Homo sapiens: one gene and its partners. Each later gene encodes a partner of the first gene's protein in a complex. Each region holds a gene or a part of one and is shown in the gene's direction. Other genes may lie near its edges.

Region 1 (3,749 bases):
ACCATGTGTCTCTGTTGAAACCCCAACTGTCTTTCTCCCCACTCCCTACCCACCCAGGGGAAGCCAAATATAGGCCAAGAGCAGCCTGTGGATGATGCTGCAGAAGTCCCTCAGAGGGAACCAGAGAAGGAAAGGGGTGATCCAGAACGGCAGAGAGAGATGGAAGAAGAGGAGGATGAGGATGAGGATGAGGATGAAGATGAGGATGAACGGCAGTTACTGGGAGAATTTGAGAAGGAACTGGAAGGGATCCTGCTTCCGTCAGACCGAGACCGGCTCCGTTCGGAGGTGAAGGCTGGCATGGAGCGGGAACTGGAAAACATCATCCAGGAGGCAAGCCCAGCTCTTCCTCCTGTTGCTTCCACAGCCGCCTGGTCCCGTGGAGCAGGACAGGCTGACGGGCTAAAAGAAACAGAGGGCACAGCACAGGGCAAGGACGGGGCACTTGGAAGTGGTAGCTGTTTCCCTAATTAATCGGGGCTGTTGGGGAAGGGGGACCAGAGAGAGGGACAAGACTTAAATATCAGACTCTCTGGCCAGGCGCGGTGGCTCACGCCTGTAATCCCAGCACTTTGGGAGGCCGAGGTGAGCGGATCACCTGAGGTCAGGAGTTCAAGACCAGCCTGGCCAACATGGCGAAACCCTCTCTACTAAAAATGCAAACAAATTGGCCAGGCATGGCAGTGGGTACCTGTAATCCCAGCTCTTTGGAAGGCTGAGGCAAGAGAATCGCTCGAACCCGGGAGGCGGAGGTTGCAGTGAGCCGAGACGGCACCACTGTACTCCAGCCTGGGTGATAAGCAAAACTCCATTTCAAAATATCAGACTCTCCTACAGAGCCCAGCCCGCTGGCTGCCTCCACACCCCAGACCCTTGACTCACTCTCTTCTCTTGGGTATTCCAGACAGAGAAAGAGCTGGACCCAGATGGGCTGAAGAAGGAGTCAGAGCGGGATCGGGCAATGCTGGCTCTCACATCCACTCTCAACAAACTCATCAAAAGACTGGAGGAAAAACAGAGTCCAGAGCTGGTGAAGAAGCACAAGAAAAAGAGGGTTGTCCCCAAAAAGCCTCCCCCATCACCCCAACCTACAGGTGAGAGCAGTCAGACAAGAAAGAGTAGCCCAGTCTGTTGTTTTCATCCCTCAGCTGGTTCTGTTCCCAGAGGGGACCCTGTTCCTTCCCTTCTGAGGGTGCTCATTCTCTCCCCACTTTCTGGAACACTGTCCTCACTTGCGCCTGCTTCCCAACACCATCATCCCTTTGCGTGTTTACCTCCTATTCATCCCTCTGGGAAGCAGCTTTTAGAGCATATCTGCTGGTTTTCTGGTTTGCTCCTGTACACCCAGTGCCTAGCACTCTGCCTGGCACACAATGGATGATCAGTAGCTAGTAATTGAATGCTTGTGAGTCTATATGCTGAAAACCACTTTAGGACTTTGCACCAAGAGAGGCCCCAGCTGTCAGGGCATGAATAGGAGAGCCCAGCTGCACATGAGCCAATAGCTTGGATAGACTTTAAATTATTTCTTCTTCTTGTATCCCCTTGTGTCCATTTCATAGTGTCCTATGGGTGTGGACATCAGATATTCTAAATGGAATGTTCCAGTTTCAAACCTTCCATTCCCACTCTCTCTATAAACATTGAAATGTCTTTAAAGTCCCAACATATGGAGGAGGAGACCACACTTTTCCAACCTGCTTCTTCAAACAGAACTTTGTTGGTGCAGGTGGCCTGATTTTGGCTTTAGAAAACATTTGTTTTCCTATAGGTGACGGGCAGAATTATTGGGTAGGGCGGGAAGATGGAAGGCTGCAATTGGTGGAGGGAGCTCTACAGGCTGAACTGGGAGGGGCGGGGCACACATTTTTTTGAGCCCTGGCTCATATACATGTTGAGATGGAAGAGCTGCCAAAGCCAACTGATGTTTTAGGGGGAGATGACCCCCACACCCCTAACCCTGGAGTCACGCCTCTGCTTTGTGTTTCCCTGTGTGTCTCCCCCTCTAAGAGGAGGATCCTGAGCACAGAGTCCGGGTCCGGGTCACCAAGCTCCGTCTCGGAGGCCCTAATCAGGATCTGACTGTCCTCGAGATGAAACGGGAAAACCCACAGCTGAAACAAATCGAGGGGCTGGTGAAGGAGCTGCTGGAGAGGGAGGGACTCACAGCTGCAGGTGGGCCCTGGAGGGCGGCTGGACCCAGTGCTGTCGGAAGGGCAAGCTGCCGGAAGTGGAGGGGCTGGGACCAGTGGGGCAGGGGGCCTGCCCTGAGGCTCCCAACCATCCTCTCCTCTCACTGCATACTGCTCCTTTCCAGGGAAAATTGAGATCAAAATTGTCCGCCCATGGGCTGAAGGGACTGAAGAGGGTGCACGTTGGCTGACTGATGAGGACACGAGAAACCTCAAGGAGATCTTCTTCAATATCTTGGTAAGAGGCTTCTACCCCCGAGTCCTGGCCCCCAGCCCTCCTGGAGTGGAGGTGCGGGCTTGCCCCAGCCACGCCATTGCTGAGCTTCCATTTCCTGATCTGTAAGACAAGGCTGGGGTTCCAGTGGCTCAGAGTGCTGCCATGCAGGAAGAGCCCCTCAGGACATGGGTGTCCTCATTCCCTGCCTTCCCCCAGCTGCCTGGCCCAGGACTTCCCTGGGCTCAACGGCCAGTAGCTCCAGCCCACCTCTACCCTCTCCCACCAGGTGCCGGGAGCTGAAGAGGCCCAGAAGGAACGCCAGCGGCAGAAAGAGCTGGAGAGCAATTACCGCCGGGTGTGGGGCTCTCCAGGTGGGGAGGGCACAGGGGACCTGGACGAATTTGACTTCTGAGACCAACACTACACTTGACCCTTCACGGAATCCAGACTCTTCCTGGACTGGCTTGCCTCCTCCCCACCTCCCCACCCTGGAACCCCTGAGGGCCAAACAGCAGAGTGGAGCTGAGCTGTGGACCTCTCGGGCAACTCTGTGGGTGTGGGGGCCCTGGGTGAATGCTGCTGCCCCTGCTGGCAGCCACCTTGAGACCTCACCGGGCCTGTGATATTTGCTCTCCTGAACTCTCACTCAATCCTCTTCCTCTCCTCTGTGGCTTTTCCTGTTATTGTCCCCTAATGATAGGATATTCCCTGCTGCCTACCTGGAGATTCAGTAGGATCTTTTGAGTGGAGGTGGGTAGAGAGAGCAAGGAGGGCAGGACACTTAGCAGGCACTGAGCAAGCAGGCCCCCACCTGCCCTTAGTGATGTTTGGAGTCGTTTTACCCTCTTCTATTGAATTGCCTTGGGATTTCCTTCTCCCTTTCCCTGCCCACCCTGTCCCCTACAATTTGTGCTTCTGAGTTGAGGAGCCTTCACCTCTGTTGCTGAGGAAATGGTAGAATGCTGCCTATCACCTCCAGCACAATCCCAGTGAAAAAGGTGTGAAGCACCCACCATGTTCTTGAACAATCAGGTTTCTAAATAAACAACTGGACCATCAATCCATCAACCTTTTTTGTGGGGTGGGGGTTCCAGCAGGGAGAAGGCTCAGTGTTCTTTTCAGATCATGCTCTGATCCTGTTCTTTGCTCCCCATTCCCCAGGTACTATAAACGGGGGCTGGGGTATGCAGGAAGAGACCAGGGTAGCTAAACAAAGCCTGGCCTGGCAAGGATTGAAAGAAACACTTGCAATGCTGTCATCTTCCTTTTCTCATCTGTCTGTTTCTGTTCCTTCCCTTTTGCACCAAGTCTTTCCCTATTGTTTCCCCCTTTATACCCTG
Region 2 (3,749 bases), on another chromosome or scaffold:
AGTAATTTTTTGATTATATAATTATCATAATTTGCTATTCTTTCAAGGATTAATTTCCAATTTAAACCTGTAAGTTACTTATGAATATATAACAACACTCAGAAATTTTTAATGTGTTTATTATAAAATATTTTAGCTCAATGGAACATGAAAGCTAGATTAAATAGCTTTTACTTATAAATTTAATTTATCACTTATAGTCTCGAGACATCTCATGCATTAGAAACTATACTAGCAATAATATAAAGCATTTAATTTTTCTTGCTTGGTAATATTTCTAATATTCAGATAAAATGATCAAACTTTTCAATATTATTAATTCCTTGTGGATTATTGTTTTTGTTCAGGATAACCTTTTTGAATGGCACTTCACGGTTAGAGGGCCCCCAGACTCCGATTTTGATGGAGGAGTTTATCACGGGCGGATAGTACTGCCACCAGAGTATCCCATGAAACCACCAAGCATTATTCTCCTAACGGTAAGAATTTTGGATTTTTAGAGTGCTTGTGGCTTCACTCTTCCTGGTAGCTGCAAAATATAGTAAGCAAATCATTTTCATTAAGAAATAATAGAACAGTATAATTTTGCTTTTGGGGTCCAGGCCCTGGGACTACAATTTTTTTCCTCCAAAATAATTCCTAGGAAGCTGATGCATCTGAGAAGTAAAAATGATACAACTGAATGCATAAATGTCATATCATGGTTGTTAGGATTCAATGAATTAATATATGCCAAGTGCTGGGCATACACATCTGGCACTTCATAAGTACTCACTAAAGGGTAGCTAATGTTATTGTACCTTGTAATCATATTGTCTCCTTTAACTTCCCACCTTTCTTACACTCTCTTCCTCAGTTTTCTCATCTTTACAATGAGAATAATGATACCTACCTCATTGAGTTTATGTGGGATGAAAAGTATCAAGATCTTATTGTATAGCTCTTAGAATAGAGCCTGACACAGAATACTCAATAAGTGTTAGCATTATTATTACTGTTTATATCTCAGATTTTCTCTCTTTCTCTCCAAATTTACACATCTTTTCTTCATGTGAAGGAAAACTTTTTTTTTTTTTTAAGAGACACGGTCTTTCTCTGTTGCCCAGGCTGGAGCGCAGTAGCACGATCATAGCTCACTGTAGCCTCAAACTCCTGGGCTCAAGCTATCCTCCCACCTCAGCCTCCTGAGTAGCTGGGACTATAGGCACATGCCACTGCACCCAGCTAATTAAAAAGTTTTTTGGTAGAGACATGGTCTCATTGGTCTTGAACTACTGGCCTCAGGCAGTCCTCCCATCTCAGCCTCCCAAAGTGCTAGGATGACAGGTGTCACCATCATACCTGGCCAAGGAAAACTATTGATCTAATTCCTCTTTAATTGTTAAGCTTTTCTTCTCTCATTTCCTTTAACTATGTTTAATTATCCCCTAACCTTGAAAAAAGCAAAAACAAACACAAAAACCATTCCCTGTATCTGTTATCACTTTAAGCTGTGCCTATTTTTCTCTTTGGTAACCTCCAAGGCATCCTTTCCGTAGTTTGGCCTGCTGCAGTCCACCTTCCACACATAGTGCCCTGTTGAAACATGAAACTACACCAATCTCAGAGACCAGTTTGAGAAATCTCACTGCTTCTCCTCAGCCTTCATCCTGTTCTCAGTTAAACATCTTACCCACACGGAGTAGCAAATGGTGAAACAACAGGTATTCATCAATAAATACCAAATTAGGCCGGGCGCGGTGGCTCACGCCTGTAATCCCAGCACTTTGGGAGGCCGAGGCGGGTGGATCATGAGGTCAGGAGATCGAGACCATCCTGGCTAACAAGGTGAAACCCCGTCTCTACTAAAAATACAAAAAATTAGCCGGGCGCGGTGGCGGGCGCCTGTAGTCCCAGCTACTCGGGAGGCTGAGGCAGGAGAATGGCGTGAACCCGGGAAGCGGAGCTTGCAGTGAGCCGAGATTGCGCCACTGCAGTCCGCAGTCCAGCCTGGGCGACAGAGCGAGACTCCATCTCAAAAAAAAAAAACATAAATAAATAAATAAATAAATAAATAAATACCAAATTAATGCTGCTTTTACCTCTATTTTGTATAACAGAGAGAACATTTGTTTAAGAGCCAATAGGCCTAGATTCTGACTGGTGCTCTTTCCATTACACTATGGGTGGGTTACACAATGTCTTTAAAATTGTTTTCTCATCAGTCAAAATGAATGTTGTGTTTGGTAATTGTAATCACACCATAAAGTACCTGACATATAGAAGCTGCTTAATAAGTATTAGCTGATATAGAGAACTGCTAATGCTGGCAGTAGAGTTGGAGCAGGGTCCTGGAGACACTCTACTGTGTCAGGAGTCATTTTATTTAGTTGCTAGATCATGGGGAGAGCTAAGTGGTCTTCGGGGAGGGAGGGGCTGGTGCATGGGGAGACTGGTGGTGGTGGAGGACAGTAGTTAGCAGCAGCTCTTTACCAACAAATACAGGTATATTTCAATAGTTAGCCAATGGTATGGTCATACTAACCACACTGGCTGAGAATCAGCCCTGATTTTCAACATTACACTCTTTCTGGTTCACTTCTTTTTTGAAAAGTCTTCTCCAACTTTCATTCAATAAGTATTTATTTATCCTTTCATTCATCACTCCTCTGAAAATCACACCTCTCTCAGAGCCTTTCTCCCCATGTCTTTCCTCACTAACATCTAGTTAGGTGATACTGAGTCCTTAGGTTTCGTCCTGGCCTCTTGAATGTCTTCTCTTTTAGATTCTTTTTTTTTTTTTAACTTGAGATAGGGTCTCACTCTGTCACCCAGGCTGGAGTCCAATAGCATGATCACAGCTCACTGCAGCCTTGATGTCCCACACTCAAATGATCCTCCCACGTCAGCCTCCTGAGTAGCTGAGACTATAGTCACACATACCACGCTTGGCTAAATTTTTTTTATTTTTATTTTTTGTAGAGACAGGGTTTCACTTTGTTGCCCAGGCTGGTCTCAAACTCCTGGCCTCAAGTGACCTTCCTACCTTAGCCTCCCAAGTGCTGGGATTACAGACATGAGTCACCATGCCTGGCCTCTTTTAGATTCTTAACTGAGCCTAGCTCCATACTAGGCACAGGGTAGGACATTAGTAAATCCTCTCCCCTCCCCTCCCCTCCCCCACTCCTTCCCTCCTCCCCTTCCCCCTCCCCTCTCCTTCCCCCCTCTCCTTCCCCCTTCCCCTCCCCACCCCTCTTCCCTCCCCATCCCTTCCCCCCTCCCCTCCCCACTTCCCTCCCTTCCCCCCTCCCCTCCCCTCTCTCCTCCCCCATCCCCTCTCCTCCCCCCTCCCCCCCTCTCCTCCCCTCCTCTCCTCTTTTTTTTTCTTTTCTTGGGGACAGGGTCTCACACTGTCACCCAGGCTGGCATGCAGCAATGCAGTCATAGTTCACTGTGGCCTTGAACTCCTGGGCTCAAGTAATCTTCCTGTCTTAGCCTCCCAAGTAGGTAGGACTAGAGGCACATGCCACCACTCCTGGCTAATTTTCTTTCTTTTCTTTTTTTGGTGACAGTGTCTCACTAAGTTGCTCAAGCTGGCCTTGAACTCCTGGCCTCAAGTGATCCTCCTGCCTCAGTCTCCCAGAGTGCTAGGATTACAGGCGTGAGCCACTTCGCTGGCCAGTAAAACTTTACATGTTAATTATTTAGATTTCACTTGTGCAACTCAGTTTCAAAAGGTGCTGTAAAACACCTTCTAAAAACAGCTTTTA
Region 3 (3,749 bases), on another chromosome or scaffold:
AAGGCTAGTCATAGAAACTGGAATCCGTCTTTCCCAAAGCAGGGCATAGAAACCAAAACCCCACCCTTTCCCAAAGCCAGCCACAAACCTAAAAATATTACTCTAACCTCCCTGCACCCCTTTCTGTGCAAATATTGGACATAGAGAAATTATCTGGCAGAGCGCAGTGGCTCACGCCTGTAATCCCAGCACTTTGGGAGGCCGAGGCGGGTGGATCACCTGAGGTCAGGAGTTCAAGACCAGCCTGGCCAACATGGTGAAACCCCGTCTCAACTAAAAATACAAAAAAAATTAGCTGGGCGTGATGGCGGGCGCTTGTAATCCCAGCTACTTCGGGAGGCTAAGACAGGAGAATCACTTGAACCTGGGAGGGGGAGGTTGCAGTGAGCCGAGATCGCACCATCGCACTCCAGCCTGGGCGACAAGAGCAAAACTCTGTCAAAAAAAAAAAAAGAAGGAAAAGAAAAATTATCTGACCTACCTTGTTTAACTGTTGTAGGCCACAGCCCCCATTCCAGAGGGTCCTGTTCCATACCCAGAAGGAATGAATGCTGCAGACAGGCCAAGGAGAATCCAGATAGGCCTTGCTGGGTTTCTTGCCTGTTTGCATCAGAGTGTTTTTTGTCCAGTCATTTTTTTTGAGACGGAGTCTCGCTCTGTCGCCCAGGCTGGAGTGCGGTGACGCAATCTCGGCTCACTGCAAGCTCCGCCTCCCGGGTTCACGCCATTCTCCTGCCTCAGCCTCCTGAGTAGCTGGGACTACAGGCGCCCGCCACCACGCCTGGCTAATTTTTAGTATTTTTAGTAGAGACGGGGTTTCACTGTGTTAGCCAGGATGGTCTCGATCTCCTGACCTTGTGATCCGCCCGCCTCAGCCTCCCAAAGTGCTGAGATTACAGGCGTGAGCCACCGCGCCCGGCCTTGTCCAGTCATTTTTTTATACGGCTGTCCATGCTTTGTTGAACCTAAGCATACAAATACACGATTTCCCTTGTTATCTTTGGGTCTTCATTCTGAAGGCTCCCGTGTCACATAAAACGATGGTCAAATCAATGTCTATGTCTTTTCTCCTATTAACTGCCTCCTGTCAGTGACTTTCAGCGAAACTTCAGAAGGTGAAGCGGAAGTTTTCCTTTGGCCCGGACAGCATCATCATTAATATCATTAATAAATATTCCCACAGTATTTGGCCCTTGTATGTCCTTTGTATGGTGCTGGGGATACAATAACATATCGCTGCAGAGATTTTCAAATGTAAAAGAAGAGAGATTATACTGATTTAAAAGCTAGATTCTGTCCTCACCCTGGAGCTAGTCTGCATTTACGAAAACTTACTTTCCACTGCGGTAGACAGACGCTTTCTACTCCAGCGCAACTGTGCCTTTCCTCAAATCTAGTCTCAAATTTAGGTTCCTTTTCATTTTCTGTTATGGAAAGGCCCTCAGCGTATCCCAGGCTTTGGAGCCTTTTGTTAGTAGTCTGGCCCATGCATAATTTCCCCTTCCTCTGAATTATACATAGCACCTCACTAGTTATATTTTAATACACTTTCCTATGTCTCAGTGGTAGTTTCCTATATTAATATATATCCCAGTTTAGTTTGGCTTTTAATTTCTTTTCTTCTAAGGGGATAGATGCGTTCTGTACCACCTTCTCGAGTACTAATGGTTAACTGGAATGAACACAAGCAACAAACCCTCCGGCCTGGATCCCAAAACAACAGTCGCGGTTCTGCAACAGAAAAGGCTGCGCTGGCCCTGGGACCTGTCTCGGAAATACTCCTCATCCATCTAGTTTCTCCCAGGACAACTAGGCCCAACCCCACGGGAATATACAGAGAGGCCTCGGGTCACAGACTTAAAGCTGTAAAAGGGAGGAGGCGACGGTCTGGTCCCAGTCACCGACCAGCCACCGACTACTAGGGCCCGAACCCGGGACTGCAGACGCACCTCCCCGCCCTCCCTTCCCAGCTCCGCCTGGCGGCGGGCGTTGCTCCTGAGGGGCGGGGCTTCCGCTTCCGGCGGGGGATTGTTGACGCCTGCGGTTGCTGCGGTGGTGACGGGGCTGTTGGGGAGGGGCCATTGGGGGAGGGAAACGGAGCAGTGACAGGTATCCCAGAGGGTGCTGCTGAGGCGACGATGGCCGAGGGGCCCGAGGAAGCCCGAGGCCACCCTCCCGGGCAGGACGATGGCGGAGGGGACCACGAGCCCGTCCCTTCCCTGAGAGGCCCTCCTACCACCGCCGTCCCATGCCCCCGCGACGACCCCCAGGCCGAACCCCAGGCCCCGGGCCGGCCCACAGCCCCGGGCCTCGCGGCTGCCGCCGCAGCCGACAAATTGGAGCCGCCGCGCGAGCTCAGGAAGCGCGGGGAGGCGGCCTCCGGCTCCGGTGCAGAGCTGCAGGAGCAGGCGGGCTGCGAGGCGCCCGAAGCCGCGGCGCCACGAGAGAGACCAGCTCGGCTGAGCGCCCGCGAGTACTCCCGGCAAGTGCACGAGTGGCTGTGGCAGTCCTACTGCGGCTACCTCACCTGGCACAGCGGCCTGGCCGCCTTCCCAGCCTACTGCAGCCCCCAGCCCTCCCCGCAGAGCTTCCCTTCGGGCGGCGCTGCAGTCCCCCAGGCCGCGGCGCCGCCGCCCCCGCAGCTGGGCTATTACAACCCCTTCTACTTCCTGAGCCCCGGGGCCGCGGGGCCTGACCCGCGGACAGCTGCCGGCATCAGCACCCCTGCTCCAGTCGCGGGCCTGGGACCCCGGGCTCCTCACGTGCAGGCGTCGGTCCGGGCCACTCCAGTGACGAGGGTAGGATCCGCAGCCCCTTCGCGAAGCCCGAGCGAGACCGGGCGACAGGCAGGTGAGAAGCGCGAGGTGGAGGCTGGGCGGAGTAGAAGGGTTTTCGGGGGCCTGTGGGGTAGAGCTGGCACGCTTTTTAGACCTGTAACTGCTGCTTCTACTCTGATTGACTATCCTGCCCGTTCAGTTCACTAGCTATCGTTTGTCCAGGCCCTAAATTCCCAAAATGTACAAGGAGGCAATACAGTTTCTTCTTCCTTTAGACCTGGCACTCCAAATTGACTCCCTTACTCATGGGACTAGTTGTTTATTCGTGAAAAGAAATTGCTCTTCAAACCATCCTCTTCCTTTGGTTTTCACGCTCTGCAGTGAGGGCCAAAGCTAAATTCGCAAATGGCAAACCCACTTTTGGAGGGGCTCGACTGGTAATGCTGAAAATTATTCAGACATTGGCTACTTAGGACAGTGGAACTGAACGGATATAAAAGGAGATCGACATGGATACAAGTGGAGTTAGGAAGTTTTGATTGGGTCAAAGCTTCACTTCATTTGATCAATATCTTGTATATTGTGTAATTGTTTTTGCTTCTGTGTGTGAACTAGAATATTTTGAATTAGTTACACTTCTTAGTTTACTATTTAAACTATTAGACTTTTAGTTTATTTTAGTTAGCCACAGATAGATGGGACAAGAACTAGTTGATGCCTCTGATCCCAGTCAGAATTTAGGATGACAGATTGATACTCACTGGGTTTATTTTAAAGAAAGCAAAACAAACTAAAAAACGGGTGGGGGGGGATTACAGGGATTTACTTTATACTAATTGCCAATATTTAACCTTGATTTGTACTAAAAAATGTTTAATTTTGTGTGACTTAGATGTGATCACCTGGATTCTCCTCATTAGAATTCCTAGTGAAATGTAGTGGGTACCCTAATCAAATTTATCTGTGAAATCA

Evidence for each region.
Region 2: OS9 (region 1) and UBE2J1 share a complex: the UniProt entries of both Homo sapiens proteins name them as parts of the HRD1 complex.
Region 3: OS9 (region 1) and FAM8A1 share a complex: the UniProt entries of both Homo sapiens proteins name them as parts of the HRD1 complex.

Annotation. Positions count from the first base shown.
Region 1 is NC_000012.12:57,718,089-57,721,837, forward strand, and holds the end of OS9 (protein OS-9 isoform 1 precursor), read left to right. Parts: intron 1-57; coding exon 58-333; intron 334-904; coding exon 905-1,094; intron 1,095-2,010; coding exon 2,011-2,175; intron 2,176-2,317; coding exon 2,318-2,430; intron 2,431-2,695; coding exon 2,696-2,821; 3' UTR 2,822-3,469; downstream 3,470-3,749. UniProt on the Homo sapiens protein: Lectin component of the HRD1 complex, which functions in endoplasmic reticulum (ER) quality control and ER-associated degradation (ERAD).
Region 2 is NC_000006.12:89,339,054-89,342,802, reverse strand, and holds part of UBE2J1 (ubiquitin-conjugating enzyme E2 J1), read left to right. Parts: intron 1-347; coding exon 348-479; intron 480-3,749. UniProt on the Homo sapiens protein: Catalyzes the covalent attachment of ubiquitin to other proteins. Functions in the selective degradation of misfolded membrane proteins from the endoplasmic reticulum (ERAD) and is essential for cells to recover from ER stress.
Region 3 is NC_000006.12:17,598,272-17,602,020, forward strand, and holds the start of FAM8A1 (protein FAM8A1), read left to right. Parts: upstream 1-2,030; 5' UTR 2,031-2,138; coding exon 2,139-2,850; intron 2,851-3,749. UniProt on the Homo sapiens protein: Plays a role in the assembly of the HRD1 complex, a complex involved in the ubiquitin-proteasome-dependent process of ER-associated degradation (ERAD).